2 separate regions of the Homo sapiens genome follow, and region 1 is linked to region 2. A link means that fine-mapping ties the variant in region 2 to the expression of a gene that starts in the linked region. Tissue or cell type: subcutaneous fat. Region 2 holds a variant in brackets; the other region holds the start of a gene. All regions are shown on one strand. Distances are from middle to middle.

Evidence for each region. PIP is the estimated chance that this variant, and not a neighbour inherited with it, causes the effect.
Region 1: it holds the start of DYNLT5, and the variant in region 2 is fine-mapped to the expression of DYNLT5 in subcutaneous fat (GTEx, PIP above 0.99).

The regions. Positions count from the first base shown.
Region 1 is chr1:66,748,075-66,756,582 of GRCh38, forward strand. It overlaps DYNLT5 (dynein light chain Tctex-type family member 5), which reads left to right and starts at 4,385. Exons shown (of 5, transcript NM_152665.3): 1 at 4,385-4,510; 2 at 6,582-6,703. The coding sequence starts at 6,585. SGIP1 (SH3GL interacting endocytic adaptor 1) reads left to right here. Exons shown (of 25, transcript NM_032291.4): 25 at 1-3,065.
Region 2 is chr1:66,776,860-66,785,367 of GRCh38, forward strand. It overlaps DYNLT5 (dynein light chain Tctex-type family member 5), which reads left to right. Exons shown (of 5, transcript NM_152665.3): 5 at 392-2,188. The coding sequence ends at 595. Among named protein-coding and RNA genes, the nearest start is that of INSL5, 20 kb to the right of the region's middle. The variant C/A (reference allele first, on the strand shown) is at 4,399.

The sequences.
Region 1 (8,508 bases), 29 kb before region 2:
CACCATCTTTTACTGTGTGCACTTTCCTCTTAAGGTTTTATTGTATTTTCCCTGCTCCTTTAGGCTTTTTTTTCATGTGGAAAACAGTATCTAAATGCCATTCTCTCACTTATGAATTAAATATGGCTACCATTAATGTTCCTTTTTGTCAGTGGAGTGTATGGAAGGAAAATGAGATAGGAGTACATTGCTTAAGTCTCTAAATATTAAAAACAACAACAAAACACTTGCCTTTCTCTTGTGTCATTGCTTCAATGTTCTGTCATCTTCTGCAAGCTAGAGTTGCACTGCTGACATCTAATTAAGATCTAAATATATTTCATGAAGGAATGTCAAATGTAAAGTCTGTTGAGTTGACCATGGTGAACCTCTTGATTGGCCCTCACATTTAATATCTGATTTCTCTCCTAAATGGGTATGTCTATGAGGAAAAGACACCTATTTGTTGGCATTGACCATGGGTATAATAATTTATTCTCTAGGTTTAACTTCTAAAATTATTTTTCCTTTGATTTCTAACTGCCTCCTTCTATCCCTAGAGTAATACCTTGCCTACCTTAAATACATCTTTATCCTTGTAAAAAATGTTTTGGCAAAAAACAAATATATTTTTAAATGTCCCGTAATGTTTTAAAGAAAAGAAGTAAAGTGTATTTGGGCTATGCTCACCAATATTCCAGTATTTTACAAATTGTGTTCTGGAAGATGTTCATTGTGGTCTGAGAACAAATGGTCCTATACTATAATTCTCTCTCCTTGGACATTGACAATAAATGTTAGTGTTTTAATGAAGCTTAAGAAAGTTATTGAATCAGGTAAAAAAAATTTTTTCTAAGCACACCTTGAGAAACCTTTGGAAAAGTTTTCTTTTAACACTAGTTTATATATCCTTCAATAATTGTAAATAAAATAACCAGGAATGCTTTGAAAAAAATGCTTCTGGAATTTTGTTTTAATTTTAAGAGAATTCCTGTCATTTCAAATGAATTGTTATCTATTTTAAATTTCATTAGTATCTCTTAGTGAATTTAACTTTATCATCTAAAATATTCAAAACAAAACAATAAAATTATTTTAATTTTTGTATTATTTTTAAGGCTTGCACCTATGACCAGCATATCAGACCCCTATCTGTTGAAGATGTTTCCAATTCTTTGCCGTGTGGAATTAATGCCAGTGAATAATCTCCAGTAACGTTTTACTAAACAGCTTTAGGAAACTGAATCATGATAGATCAATGTTGACAGTATTTTTACATCAGCTTGTCAGAAATTATATTAAAAACACTTTGGGGAAAGCTAAGAGCAGTGCACTGTTTAGCACAGATTTTGTGAGATTCTATACTCTTTTAATGAGCATTTCATAGGGTTTTTTTTTTGCTGTTTTTTTTTCTTTTTTTGCTTTGCTTTACTTTGCCAATCAGTTACTTTTATACCAAATTAACGAAGTTTCTTTAAAAACTTCCTGGTTAAATTGTCTGTTATCATATAGAAAAGAATCAAACTGAATCACTTTACATTTCTCTAAAGATAGTTCAGTTTTTAATCCATCCAGAGTTTGTGAATCAGCCTGATAGATCATAAGCCATTTATAATTTTTAAACGTTCCATTGAATGAGTATATCATACAAATGTTAATTCCATCTCGCTCATTCAGTTTTACATTACTTTTATGAATTTTTTTTCTCGCAAAGTAAATGCTTGATGTTATTCATTCACCATCACTCTAAGGTATTTTAAATCATACAACAAGTAACTATCACAAGAACCACTGTCCCAAGATCCAAAGTCAGATTTTTTTCCCTTTTCAAGTTGCTAGAATGATAATTCATATAGCTGTGTTGATTTTTCAGGTCAGAATTTAGTTCTTGCTTTGTTAAATGGACATACATGAAAGAGATTGGCTCCTATCTAATTCATATTCTCTCTCTCTCTCTCTCTCTTTCTCTGTGTGTGTGTGGGGGTGTGTGTGTGTGTGTGTGTGTGTGTGTGTGTCTCTTTCCTCTCTGTCTAAGGGGAATTGGAAAATTGCTGCTGAATAATTTTTCTTGAAAAAGCCAAGTGTTGATATGATGATATATTAATCTTATCTATGAACAGAGCTTCACCACAGGCCAAGCAGTAATGTATACAGCTGGCTTTTTAAGCTGTTTGAACACTATTGTTTTCGATTAAAAAGAGTTTTTGTTTGTTTTTCACTTGTATAGTAAAAGATCATATGAATTAAATACTCGGATATTAATTTTCATTCTTACTAAGTGGCCATGTAAGGCATTGATTTTTTTTAAACTTGAACAATGCAAGAATCTAGGAATCTCAGAAAGATTTTGCTGTGTTTCTATAGGTAATGAAATCCTGTCAATTAAGGAAAATGCTGTGTGTAATTTGATTTGGTGGTAGCCTTTATTTAGAGCTCTCTTTGATCTATGTAGCAAAAATACACTAAATTTCTTTTTAATCTTGTACTAAGTACATAATTTCACAAAAATACCTTGGGCATAAAATACTTACAAAACTGTGAATTAAAATACTCAAGATACTTTCAAAATTTAGTCAAAATGTTGATTCCCAGCCTTTTTCCTACACGTCTATTTCAAAAGAGTATACTTTTTTCTGACAGCCATTACTGCTTAGTCTGTAATGAAAGCTTTACTGCTTCTATGCTGTGCTCAAGAGAAAACCAACAACGGAAGCGAAGACTTACTTGCTCCTTCACAGAATTGCAGCAAAGCTCTCTGCTGGGCAATGGTGACAGGAAAGTGTGTAATTGACTTGTTGAAGATAATCATGAGACCATCTTAACATTACTTGCCTTATAAGTTAGAAATAGTATGGATATCACTCTTTGTAAATAATAATTTTTGTAAATGTTTTTTGTTCATAATTTTCCCAATCACCTATTTCACAAAATCCTGAATATGCAATTATTTATTATGACACGTTACTGCAACTAGGGCTCCCATTCCAGAACAAAGTTTAATTCTATATGTAAGTTGTTACTGAAATGTGATTTCTTTTTCTGGAAAATAAATGAAAAATATGAAAATAAATTGAATTGTGAATATCTTTTGCTGTCAGCCTCTTAAAATTTTACCCGCATTTCTGGAAAACTTCATTCCATGTTTAGGGTAGGGATGGTGGGCCAAAGGTCTGTCAAAGGTCAAGGGTTAAGAGTTAGACAAATTTCAGCTCTGTGATTTAAATATCGACTTGAGCATGTTACTCAACGATTCTACATTTCCTTATCTTAAAAAAAAATAGAGTAATGTCCCCTATGTCATAGTCACTGAACAAATTCAATGAGATAATGTTTATTCATCACCTAGCAGTTCCTATCTAGTCCATAGTAGATATTCAATCAACAATCCTTTCCTGTTCTTATCTTTCTGTGAGTAGAGATTGGGATGGGCAAAAATATCTATTTCTCTTCTTCCAACACTATCCTAACACTGTGCTCCACCGGAATCCCAATGTATTACTGTCAGCTAATGCTAATTCCAGCAGGACACTCATCAAGAGCCATGCCCTTGGCTAGATGCTTGGAGGCATCTTGTTTCTGCTTCCAATGATTGCCCACTACAGGAGGGTCCCTATAGTGTTTATTTTGTTTGCTTTTGGTTTGGGGAGGCCCAAACCAGGCTTAGGCTGGGGATAGTCGCTGAAGAAGAGGAAAAGCCCATTCATACCAGCAGGTAGGTCCTCAACCCCAAACAGCCTCATTTCAAAGCTTCTTAGACATTAACAGGCTCAGAAGAGTCTTGTTAAGGAAAGCGAAGGAACCCAGCCCGGTTTGTAACACATTGGAGTTAAGACCATGAGTTTCAGGGGCCTTGGGCATATTATTTAACATTTTAGAATCTCAATTTTCCAAATCCTTTAAAGGGAAAACATTCCTTTCTTGACAGAGTTATTGGGACGACTAAATCCCAATGTTTGTCGGTATCTGGGGTATCTGGCCAATGTAAGTGCTCATTTACCTCCACATTCCACCGCCTGTGCCTTGGAGGGGGAACGTGCGAAGCAGCGTTAGGAGCCGGGAAAAGGGCAGGGCTACTTTACTTTGTCTTTGCGCTTCGGATTTCCTGTGCTAGGAAACCGCAGCACTTCCCACTCCTGCCCCTGATGTCTGCGGGAAAAGGAACTTGATGAGGGGCCCTAGGGGTGCAAATGTCTTTAGTCCCAAATGTCTTCCTCGCTACACAATGAACCAGTTCCCCTCCAGCTCGCCGCCAACCCAGGACGCAGCCCGGCTCAGAGTGACCCCCAGTGGGCAGTGAAGATGAGATCCTCTACATCCTTAGGGCAGCTCAGAGGGCCACTCAGCGGCCAAGTCCGGCCGGGGAGGGCCGAGGGCTCTGTTTGAGGTCACCCTGGAGACCGGCCTCAGAGTCCAGGGAGAGTGCGCGGGCGGCCGCCGGCTGAATGAAGCCTGGGACGCGGGAGCCGCGCCGCGCGCAGTGTCTGCAGTGCCGGAGGTCTGGGAGGCTCCGGGCGAAGCCTCCCTGCTGCAGGTAGGGTCGCCTCTCTCTGCAGCGCGTCTGGACCCCAAAGGAAGGATAGGGGGCAAGGGATCGGCCCTTTGTTGAGAAATGGCCCTACTTGGCCCCGATCTCTCCGCCACCTTATTCCTCCTCTCCCCAACACATAAGAAAAAATGATCCCAAATTTGGGAACTGAAAGTCGGTCCCAACGGTTCGTCCCCTGCCCCATTGCATGGCTGGGGGCTGGGCTTCAAGAGTGATGGCCAACGCAGAGCCGGCCAGCAAGGTCATCCCCTGACCCGGGGCGGTCTTCCTGTGGCTGGCCGCACCCATGAGGACCTCCAGGTCCCAACTCTGGCCTTTCTTGGGGAGGGGGCGGCCTGCAGGGCAGCTTTGGAAACAGCTGAGGCCGAGATGGGTCTATGTGGCTTTGCAGCAAAACCTGAATGACCCACCTAATCAGGCTGTGTGTCTTTCCACACTCATAAACACACTCACCTTCGTACACACGAACACAGACACACTTATACACACAGGCACCTGCACACACAGAGATGCACACTCACAGGTACACACTCAAGGACGCTCACACTCACGTGCACACACACACCACGCTGCCTGCCTCACCCACACACAGCACCTCTGCTCTGACATTGATGCCACTGGGTTTTAGGGTATGTTCTTGTGTGCCCTACCTACTCAACTGCCAGCTCCTTGAAGGCATGGATTCTCTTCTATTTTTATGCTTTGGTGTCTAGCACAGTATTTCCTTATCGGGGCTCTCACATTTATAGATTATGAAATAATTTAAATGAATACTTAAATTTGTAGGTAGACAATGAGGGCATTATTAGAGTTATAGTCCAAGTTCTGGGAAGTCCATTGCTACTACCAGCTTTTTAACAAGTATTAGTAGGAAGGAGGGAGTTTTCCAATAAATTATTTATTTAAAAGTTAAGTCCTATTTGCTCTTTACAAACTATGTAAATGTTGCTCGAGAAAACAAAACAAACAACAAAAAATCTTTGGGAAAGCAAGGTTAATTTTAATTTTTATTTATTTATTTATTTTCTAGCTCCCTACCCCTAATTTTATTTTTTAAAGTCATGGTGGGTCAGGCACAGTGGTTGATGCCTGTAATTCCAGCACTTTGGGAGGCCAAGGCAGGAGGATCACTTAAGGCCAGGAGATTAAGGCCAGCCTGGGCAACACAGAAAGATCTTGTCTCTACAAAAATGTTTAAAAATTAGCTAGGCATGGTGGTGCAGGCCTGTAGTCCTAGCTACTAGGGAGGCTGAGGTGGGTGGACCGCTTGAGCCCAGGAGTTTGAAGTTACGGTGAGCTATGATCATGCCACTGCACTCCAGCCTGGGTAACAAGAGCTAGATCCTGTCTCTAAAATAATAAAATAGGCCAGGTAGAGTGGCTCATGCCTGTAATCCCAGCACTTTGGGAGGCTGAAGCAGGATTGCTTGATCCCAGGAGTTCAAGACCAGCCTGGGCAACATAGACCCTATCTCTACAAAAAATTAAAAATTAGCCCAGCTTGATGGCATACACCTGCAGTCCCAGCTACTCAGGTGGCTGAGTTGGGAGGAACGCTTGAGCCCAGGTGTTTGGGGCAGTAGTGAGCCATGATCATGCCACTGCACTCCAACCTGGGTGACAGAACAAGACCCTGTCTCAAAAATAAAATATAACAGTGACAGCAAATATTAATTAGCAAAGTTGTATTATGGTTACATTTGGGGGGCAATACAAATATTGGTTTCTGATGTAGGATAGCATCTTTCTGCTATACATGCATATCTTTTGTCAATGACCTCCGTCTTCATCAGCTAAGCATTTTTGCTATAGCTTAATATCTGCTTATGTAAATAATTATACTATTGCATAAATAAGCATTTTCAGAGTTATCATAGTTCCAGTTTCACTGATCAGAATAACAACAAATTCTATATATTGCTCTTGAGGAAACCCCACTTTCCTGTTCAAAAATGGTAGGAAAACTATCTGTGTACTTTGAGATTAGTCCCTGTTATACTAACTAAAATGTTTCCGGATCTTTCTTTTGCTATTTTACAAAAGTCTTCTTCCATAGGTTATGATGATGTCAGACAATGCTAAAGGCAGAGCAGCTCATTCATGGAAGAAAAGAGGGAGTATTTCTTCTCTAAGTAATCATGAATTTTGGCGAAAGGAAATTCATGGGCGCATCAAAGAGTGAGTAACTGTCTAAAATTGTAAATTCATTTATTGAATAAATAGGTTCGTAATGTTTATTAGGAGAAAAAAACACTTCCTCGGGGACATAAAAAGAGATAAAATGGGCAAGTACAAGGTGCAGGTCATCTTTAGGGGCCATATTTAAAAAGAAAGAGAAAGAGAGAAAGCTTAAGTGATAAGTTAATCCTAGCAGCATTTTTGCTATTTCAAAAATCATCCCAAAAAACCCTCTGCTCAAAAGAAACACCACATGCAATGTAAACCAGACACGCTTATATGTCTTTTGAGTTCTTCTCCTCAATATTTTATAACATAGGTTTTGCATTTTTGTAATCAATACATACATATACAATGTACTTAACATTATTGTATATAATTTTGTCATGTATTTTCATAGTTTTTTCCATATCCTCTTAAATGACTGCATAATATTTTGTCAATTTATGATTCTGGGTTCCTTAACCATTCTCTAATTATTGGACACTTTAAGTTTGTTTCCATTTTTTTTCTTTTTTACTATATGTCTGTGCTTGGTCATTTCCCAGAAGAATAATTAGTAGGTCAAAGGGCAATAAGTAGATTTTTTGGTTCTTGCTACATGTTGCATCTTCTCTCCTAAAGATATACATCAATTTTTAATATTTTCATGGCATTTCCTTTTGACTGCTGTTGGGAAGAAAACAAAACAAATTATCGACGTAGCAGTCAATTAATAATAGACTTTCGTTCTTAGTTTCTATAGCTTTGGAGGATGTTGTATATTGAGTATATATTGGGAAGCAGGAGCTAGGGTGTCCTGCAGAACAGAGAGTAGAAGAACTGGAATAATTAGAATTCTGAAACCAAAATCTTTCTATTCTCAGAGTGTATTAATGCCTACTTGCAACTCCACATTCCAGCCCTGGAAGTCTGTGGATTACACATACAATGCCTTTTACAGGTGGGAAACTGACTATAAAGGAGTAGCAATCCCAGCACATGTCAGAAGTAAAGGTGGGAGAATGATTAATCTTTGTAATTTTTGCTTCTAAACTTTTCTGGCTGCTATTTCCAATAGTTAAGTGCAAGGGTTATTTTTTAAATTATTTAAAACTGATTGTTGGCTTAAATTCAACTTACGTTTTCCAAGAAACTATTTAAGTAATAGTCTGACATAAATTACGTACCCATGATATTTTTTTAAATACTGTCTCCAAAGATTAAATTGTAATTCCTATTTGCATGACTTTTACTTATCTTTTCCCCTTCAAAACAAATTTGTCATATAGAATCAGAGTGTGGCTACATTTGAAGAATTAGAGATCACTCTTTTTAACCTATTATTGATGAATATAAATACATATTAAAAATAAGAATACAAAAATCATATTTATCAACACATTAGGATAGATTTTTCACTGACAACTACATTTAAATGATAACTATTTTGGTTTTGGACTCCCAAACAAAACATTTAGAATGGAACCTCTATTTGTACTTTTTTTCTTAAATAGCAAATGATCAGCTTCCAAGTCCCCTTGCAATGCAGACTATTTAGGAGGCTCCCCCACCCCATGCTAACTTGTATTAATACTTGCTTTCCATTGGCTTCCTCACTGTCTGGAATTAGACAGTACAAGTTATTCTCCTTCATGAATGAGGCTTCAACTAGTAGAAAAATTCTGAAAGCTTAGTGACTATCAAATACAGGCATTGTTTTGAAATTGCAGTGTTTTATGGAAAAACATATAACTTTCATTTGAAAATTACTTTAAAACAATTTTGAAAATATAAATTTCAATAATGTAAAACATTCTGAAGTT
Region 2 (8,508 bases):
GTTATATTACAGGAGACTCCAGATGTATGGTTTCTTAATTAGACATGAACAAGACAGTGTAACTCCAATGCCAACATTCTTTGACATGAAGCCATCTTAACATAAATTTTCAAAGAATGTAATTTATTAAATTCTGTGTTCTGGATTATAATTATTTCATGTATCTTAGAAAAGGTTGATTTATTGCTGGTGTTAAAATTTTGTTCCTGAATGTTCTATCTCAAGGGGACCATGCTTGAAGGGAATCATACTTACGGTTCTAAAACAATCACTGAAAGTATCTACAATGCATCATGCTATTAAATTAAATCCCTTATATTTATAACAAAGGTTAATGCTTTTGAGTTTCAATGTAGCTGAATGAAGACCCTCCCTTTTTTTAAATTTCTAGGTTATTAAAGCCCAGGTCAAGGACTTGATGATTCCACGGTATAAACTAATTGTGATTGTTCACATTGGACAACTGAACAGGCAGAGCATACTTATTGGAAGCAGATGCCTCTGGGATCCTAAAAGTGATACCTTTTCATCTTATGTTTTCAGAAATTCTTCTCTCTTCGCTCTTGCAAATGTCTATGCAGTTTACCTTGAGTGATTGAAAATAAGAAATCTAGCTCTTACTTTTGAAAATTCTGAGGCAGGCTGTATGTCTGTACACAAAAGTTTTACTGCCAAAAACTTTGAGAAAGAAACAACACTGATATTTCAAGCAACTGGAAGCTTTTGAATTTTTTCATATTCTAGTAAAGATTTGGGGAGGGGAGGGTAGCCACAGAAAGAATCTTGTTTATCTAAAGCAGGAACTTGATCTTGGTTTTGCTGGATTGCTTTCCATAGACATAGATTCTTATTAAATATTTGTTTTGGTACTAATTATTTTAATTATTCTTTAATTAGAGTGTTACAATTTCCTGCATTGTTTTTTAATAAAAAGAAGCTTTAGAAAAACTATGGCTATATACCCTGACCAATAAATGATAGTAGAATATTCAACATGGTATACACAAATGATAAATAATGTGCCTCAGTGCTGCATATAAAAGAATACTGGTTTTCATTTTGTACTTAATAAATTGAGCAGCATTCATTAAGTGCAATTATTGTTACATGTACCTGACAGTTGAAACTGCTGAGGTAGAATTAATGGCTTCATAACAATTATCGTGGTCCCACGGGCTGCAAGCTAAAACTAGAAGCTCTTGTGGCTTGCCTGCACTTTACACAATTGTGGGAGAACCGAAAGTTGGCTCTTCAGTAATGGAAACTATAAAGTGAATAAAGGCTTTTTGGGACACTGAAGTAGACATTGTGATATTAAATATACATGATGCTTAATACTAAATGTGTCTGTAACACATAAAATCATTTATTGGAAAGAGACATTGCTTTTAAATATCCTAGGCTAACAAACTTTTTCACAAAATATATGGCTGGCACCTTAACAAATAAAGCATGTGTAGTTACCATTTTACTCCTATGAATTTAATACTAAAGTGACCCAGTGAGGTTTTTGAATAGACGGGTGCTAAAATTTACAGGGCTGAAATAGCTTATTATTCTGCTGGTTAATGTATCTTACGCCACGGATCATTTATTTTTATGAAGCTTTCAAGTCTTTGTGTGCAAGTAAAATGATGTTGTGGCGTTGTTCTTGGATGGTAAGTGGACTGCCTAGAGGACATTTGTTAAAGGTCAAAGACAAATTGTACACATATGGAGAAAATTAGCAATGCTGTAGTCTTAAGGAAAAAATGATTTATCATTCATATCAAAAAGAGTTTAGCAAATGGAAAACCAGTTAATGCTTTAATTTTAAAATGTTTTGGTGTCTTACTTTTCCCTAAAAATGACATGTAGTAAAAAATGGATACTTTTAAAATCCCTTCCCTTCTGCTATTTTCTGGCTTTTAAAGTGATTATTCAAAATGAATTTGTCAATTTTCACTTTTTTTTTTCTGTTAGTGCATTAGTGGGAATATGTCTATGTAATAATTTATCACAACCAATATTTGTCAATCTCCATAGAACAGTTTTCAATCTGGATTAGATTACACGTATAACAAGTAAATGAGCTTCATATTTTCATTACACATTGGTGAACATCTCCCTTCGTGGAACAACAGCGGGGGTAATCATATCACTAATTTTGTATGAATAAATGAAAATGAAGAAACTTCTTTAACATATACAAAGTCTATTGTAACAATGACTGTTTGTTTTAGAGTTCTAAATTCTAATCCATGAGATAATTTCTTACTGTCTTCCCCAGGCTGTGTTGAGAATCGAAACTGCAAAACATGACGGCAGTTAAAAAACAAAAAAGAAAGCAGTTTGCCAGCATATTGCTACACACTGTAATTCAGATACTCAGTGATGAATTCTAGCAATTATATAGCAGTATAAGAATACATAGTAAAAACTCACTCCTTGCAACTAACTTGGGAGAAGCTAGTTATCACACAGAACTTTATCATGAGAAATTTTTAATGAAATTATCACACAGAACCTTATCATGAGAAATTTTTAAAACAATGACACTATAAATTTGAAGGAATTGTTTTACTTTGAAATGCCCTGAACTTCCCTGGTATTTTTTTCCTCTCCTAAAGTGCCATCCTTCTTCCCAGACCAGCCATGCCCATCCCTGCTCCAGAGCCTTCACTCATGCTTTCCTACCTTGGAACACCCCCTCCCACTTAAGCCACTTTCTTCGCTTTTCAGGGTCACATTCAGGTCTTACCTTTTCTCTCAGTCCTTCTCTATTCACTGCTTGCCTCCTGCTCTCTCTCTCCTCTGATTATTCTCGTGGTTGAGCTCTTGATTGTTCTCTAGCTAACTTTTGAATTCTAGTTTTGTTTCCCTTACTATTAATAGACTGAAGACATATTGAGGACATGGACCACATAACTTGACAGTGCCTAGAAATAAAAATCATTTTTACTTTTAAAGTTATCATTATGTGCATTGCACTGTGCTACATAACTCCCAGCTGCATAGATAATAGCAAACACAGTTCAACCCCTGAGGAACTAGGATCCTATAGGGGTGAAAAGAGAAGTACACAAGTGACCACAGTATAGGCTCAAATATGTTGTCATAAGAAAAATCCAGAATACATTTATCCAATTAACAGAATCAAGGAAGCCTTCATGAAAGGAAAGAAAATTTAAGCTAGACTGTGATGGAGAGATTAGAATTTCAACAGGCAGAAGATTACAGGAAGCCTAGGCTGGATAAAACACAGTGTTCACGAAGATAAGTGGTTAGAACTAAGATTAGAAGGAAGATGGCCAAATAGGAACAGCTCCGGTCTACAGCTCCCAGCGTGAGCAACGCAGAAGATGGGTGATTTCTGCATTTCCATCTGAGGTACCGGGTTCATCTCACTAGGGAGTGCCAGACAGTGTGTGCAGGACAGTGGGTGAAGCACACTGGGTGCGAGCCAAAGCAGGGCGAGGCATTGCCTCACTCGGGAAGCGCAAGGGGTCAGGGAGTTCCCTTTCCTAGTCAAAGAAAGGGGTGACAGATGGTACCTGGAAAATCAGGTCACTCCCACCCTAATACTGCGCTTTTCCAATGGGCTTAAAAAAATGGCACACCAGGAGATTATATCCCACACCTGGCTCAGAGGGTCCTAAACCCACGGAGTCTCGCTGATTGCTAACACAGCAGTCTGAGATCAAACTGCAAGGCAGCAGTGAGGCTGGGGGAGGGGCGCCTGCCATTGCCCAGGCTTGATTAGGTAAATAAAGCAGCCGGGAAGCTCGAACTTGGTGGAGTCCACCACAACTCAAGGAGGCCTGCCTGCCTCTGTAGGCTCCACCTCTGGGGGCAGGGCACAGACAAACAAAAAGATAGCAGTAACCTCTGCAGACTTAAATGTCCCTGTCTGACAGCTATGAAGAGAGTAGTGGTTCTCCCAGCATGCAGCTGGAGATCTGAGAGCGGGCAGACTGCCTCCTCAAGTGGGTCCCTGACCCCCGAGCAGCCTAACTGGGAGGCACCCCCCAGTAGGGGCAGACTGACACCTCACATGGTCGGGTACTTCTCTGAAATAAAACTTCCAGAGGAACGATCAGGCAGCAGCATTTGCAGATCACCAATATCCACTGTTCTACAGCCACTGCTGTTCTACAGCCACCGCTGTTCTACAGCCACCGCTGTTCTGCAGCCACCGCTGCTGATACCCAGGCAAACAGGGTCTGGAGTGGACCTCTAGCAAACTCCAACAGACCTGCAGCTGAGGGTCCTGTCTGTTAGAAGGAAAACTAACAAACAGAAAGGACATCCACACCAAAAATCCATCTGTACATCGCCATCATCAAAGACCAAAAGTAGATAAAACCACAAAGATGGGGAAAAAACAGAGCAGAAAAACTGGAAACTCTAAAAAGCGAG[C/A]GCCTCTCCTCCTCCAAAGGACCGCAGCTCCTCACCAGCAATGGAACAAACCTGGATGGAGAATGACTTTGACAAGCTGAGAGAAGACTTCAGATGATCAAACTACTCTGAGCTACAGGAGGAAATTCAAACCAATGGCAAAGAAGTTAAAAACTTTGGAAAAAAAGTTAGATGAATGGATACCTAGAATAACCAATGCAGAGAAGTCCTTAAAGGAGCTGGTGGAGCTGAAAGGCAAGGCTCGAGAACTACGTGAAGAATGCAGAAGCCTCAGGAGCCGATGTGATCAACTGGAAGAAAGGGTATCAGTGATGGAAGACGAAATGAATGAAATGAAGCGAGAAGGAAGTTTAGAGAAAAAAGAATAAAAAGAAATGAACAAAGCCTCCAAGAAATATGGGACTATGTGAAAAGACCAAATTTACATCTGATTGGTGTACCTGAAAGTGACAGGGAGAATGGAACCAAGCTGGAAAAAACTCTGCAGGATATTATCCAGGAGAGCTTCCCCAATCTAGCAAGGCAGGCCAACATTCAGATTCAGGAAATACAGAGAATGCCACAAAGATACTCCTCGAGAAGAGCAACTCCAAGACACATAATTGTCAGATTCACCAAAGTTGAAATGAAGGAACAAATGTTAAGGGCAGCCAGAGAGAAAGGTCAGGTTACCCACAAAGGGAAGCCCATCAGACTAACAGCAGATCTCTCGGCAGAAACTCTACAAGCCAGAAGAGAGTGGGGGCCAATATTCAACATTCTTAAAGAAAAGAATTTTCAACCCAGAATTTCATATCCAGCCAAATTAAGCTTCATAAGTGAAGGAGAAATAAAATCCTTTACAGACAAGCAAATGCTGAGAGATTTTGTCACCACCAGGCCTGCCCTAAAAGAGCTCCTGAAGGAAGCACTAAACATGGAAAGGAACAACCAGTACCAGCCACTGCAAAAACATGCCAAAATGTAAAGATCATCAAGGCTAGGAAGAAACTGCATCAACTACCAAGCAAAATAACCAGCTAACATCATAATGACAGGACCAAATTCACACATAACAATATTAACTTTAAATGTAAATGGGCTAAATGCTCCATTTAAAAGACACAGACTGGCAAATTGGATAAACAGTCAAGACCCATCAGTGTGCTGTATTCAGGAAACCCATCTCACATGCAGAGACACACATAGGCTCAAAATAAAGGGATGGAGGAAGATCTACCAAGCAAATGGAAAACAAAAAAAGACAGGGGTTGCAATCCTAGTCTCTGGTAAAACAGACTTTAAACCAACAAAGATCAAAAGAGACAAGGAAGGCCATCACATAGTGGTAAAGGGATCAATTCAACAAGAAGAGCTAACTATATATATGCACCCAATACAGGAGCACCCAGATTTATAAAGCAAGTCCTTAGTGACCTACAAAGAGACTTAGACTCCCACACAATAATAATGGGAGAATTTAACACCCCACTGTCAACATTAGACAGATCAACGAGACAGAAAGTTAACAAGGATACCCAGGAATTGAACTCAGCTCTGCACCAAGCGGACCTAATAGACATCTACAGAACTCTCCACCCTAAATCAACAGAATATATATTCTTTTCAGCACCACACCACACCTATTCCAAAATTGACCACATAGTTGGAAGTAAAGCACTCCTCAGCAGATGTAAAAGAACAGAAATTATAACAAACTGTCTCTCAGACCACAGTGCAATCAAACTAGAACTCAGGATTAAGAAACTCACTCAAAACCGCTTAACTACATGGAAACTGAACAACCTGCTCCTGAATGACTACTGGGTACATAACGAAATGAAGGCAGAAATAAAGATGTTCTTTGAAACCAACGAGAACAAAGACACAACATACCCGAATCTCTGGGACACATTCAAAGCAGTGTGTAGAGGGAAATTTATAGCACAAAATGCCCACAAGAGAAAGCAGGAAAGATCCAAAATTGACACCCTAACATCACAATTAAAAGAACTAGAAAAGCAAGAGCAAACACATTCAAAAGCTAGCAGAAGGCAAGAAATAACTAAAATCAAAGCAGAACTGAAGGAAATAGAGACACAAAAAACCCTTCAAAAAAATTAATGAATCCAGGAGCCGGTTTTTTGAAAAGATCAACAAAACTGATAGACCGCTGGCAAGACTAATAAAGAAGAAAAGAGAGAAGAATCAAATAGATGCAATAAAAAATGATAAAGGGGATATCACCACTGATCCCACAGAAATACAAACTACCATCAGAGAATACTACAAACACCTCTACGCAAATAAACTAGAAAATCTAGAAGAAATGGATAAATTCCTCGACACATACACCCTCCCAAGACTAAACCAGGAAGAAGTTGAATCTCTGAATAGACCAATAACAGGATCTGAAATTGTGGCAATAATCAATAGCTTACCAACCAAAAAAAGTCCAGGACCAGATGGATTCACAGCTGAATTCTACCAGAGGTACAAGGAGGAGCTGGTACCACTCCTTCTGAAACTATTCCAATCAATAGAAAAAGAGGAAATCCTCCCTAACTCATTTTATGAGGCCAGCATCATCCTGATACCAAAGCCTGGCAGAGACACAAACAAAAAAGAGAATTTTAGACCAATATCCTTGATGAACATTGATGCAAAAATCCTCAATAAAATACTGGCAAAATGAATCCAGCAGCACATCAAAAAGCTTATCCACCATGATCAAGTGGGCTTCATCCCTGGGATGCAAGGCTGGTTCAACATATGCAAATCAATAAATGTAATCCAGCATATAAACAGAGCCAAAGACAAAAACCACATGATTATCTCAATAGATGCAGAAAAGGCCTTTGACAAAATTCAACCACCCTTCATGCTAAAAACTCTCAATAAATTATCTATTGATGGGACGTATCTCAAAATAATAAGAGCTATCTATGACAAACCCACAGCCAATATCATACTGAATGGGCAAAAACTGGAAGCATTCCCTTTGAAAACTGGCACAAGACAGGGGTGCCCTCTCTCACCACTCCTATTCAACATAGTGTTGGAAGTTCTGACCAGGGCAATTAGGCAGGAGAAGGAAATGAAGGCATTCAATTAGGAAAAGAGGAAGTCAAATTGTCCCTGTTTGCAGATGACATGATTGTATATCTAGAAAACCCCATTGTCTCAGCCCAAAATCTCCTTAAGCTGATAAGCAACTTCAGCAGTCTCAGGATACAAAATCAATGTACAAAAATCACAAGCATTCTTATACACAAATAACAGACAAACGGAGAGTCAAATCATGAGTGAACTACCATTCACAATTGCTTCAAAGAGAATAAAATACCTAGGAATCCAACTTACAAGGGATGTGAAGGACCTCTTCAAGGAGAACTACAAACCACTGCACAATGAAATAAAAGAGGATACAAACAAATGGAAGAACATTCCATGCTCATGGGTAGGAAGAATCAATATTGTGAAAATGCCCATACAGCCCAAGGTAATTTATAGATTCAATGCCATCCCCATCAAGCTACCAATGACTTTCCTCACAGAATTGGAAAAAACTACTTTAAAGTTCATATGGAACCAAAAAAGAGCCCGCATCGCCAAGTCAATCCTAAGCCAAAAGAACAAAGCCAGAGGCATCACGCTACCTGACTTCAAACTATACTACAAGGCTACGGTAACCAAAACAGCATGGTACTGGTACCAAAACAGAGATATAGATCAATGGAACAGAACAGAGCCCTCAGAAACAATGACACATATCTACAACCATCTGATCTTTGACAAACCTGACAAAAACAAGCAATTGGGAAAGGATTCCCTATTTAATAAATGGTGCTGGGAAAACTGGCTAGCCATATAGAGAAAGCTGATACTGGATCCTTTCCTTACACCTTATACAAAAATTAATTCAAGATGTATTAAAGACTTAAATGTTAGACCTAAAACCATAAAAACCCTAGAAGAAAACCTAGGCAATACCATTCGGGACATAGGCATGGGCAAGGACTTCATGTCTAGAACACCAAAAGCAATGGCAACAAAAGCCAAAATTGACAAATGGGATCTAATTGACCTAAAGAGCTTCTGCACAGCAAAAGAAACTACCATCAGAGTGAA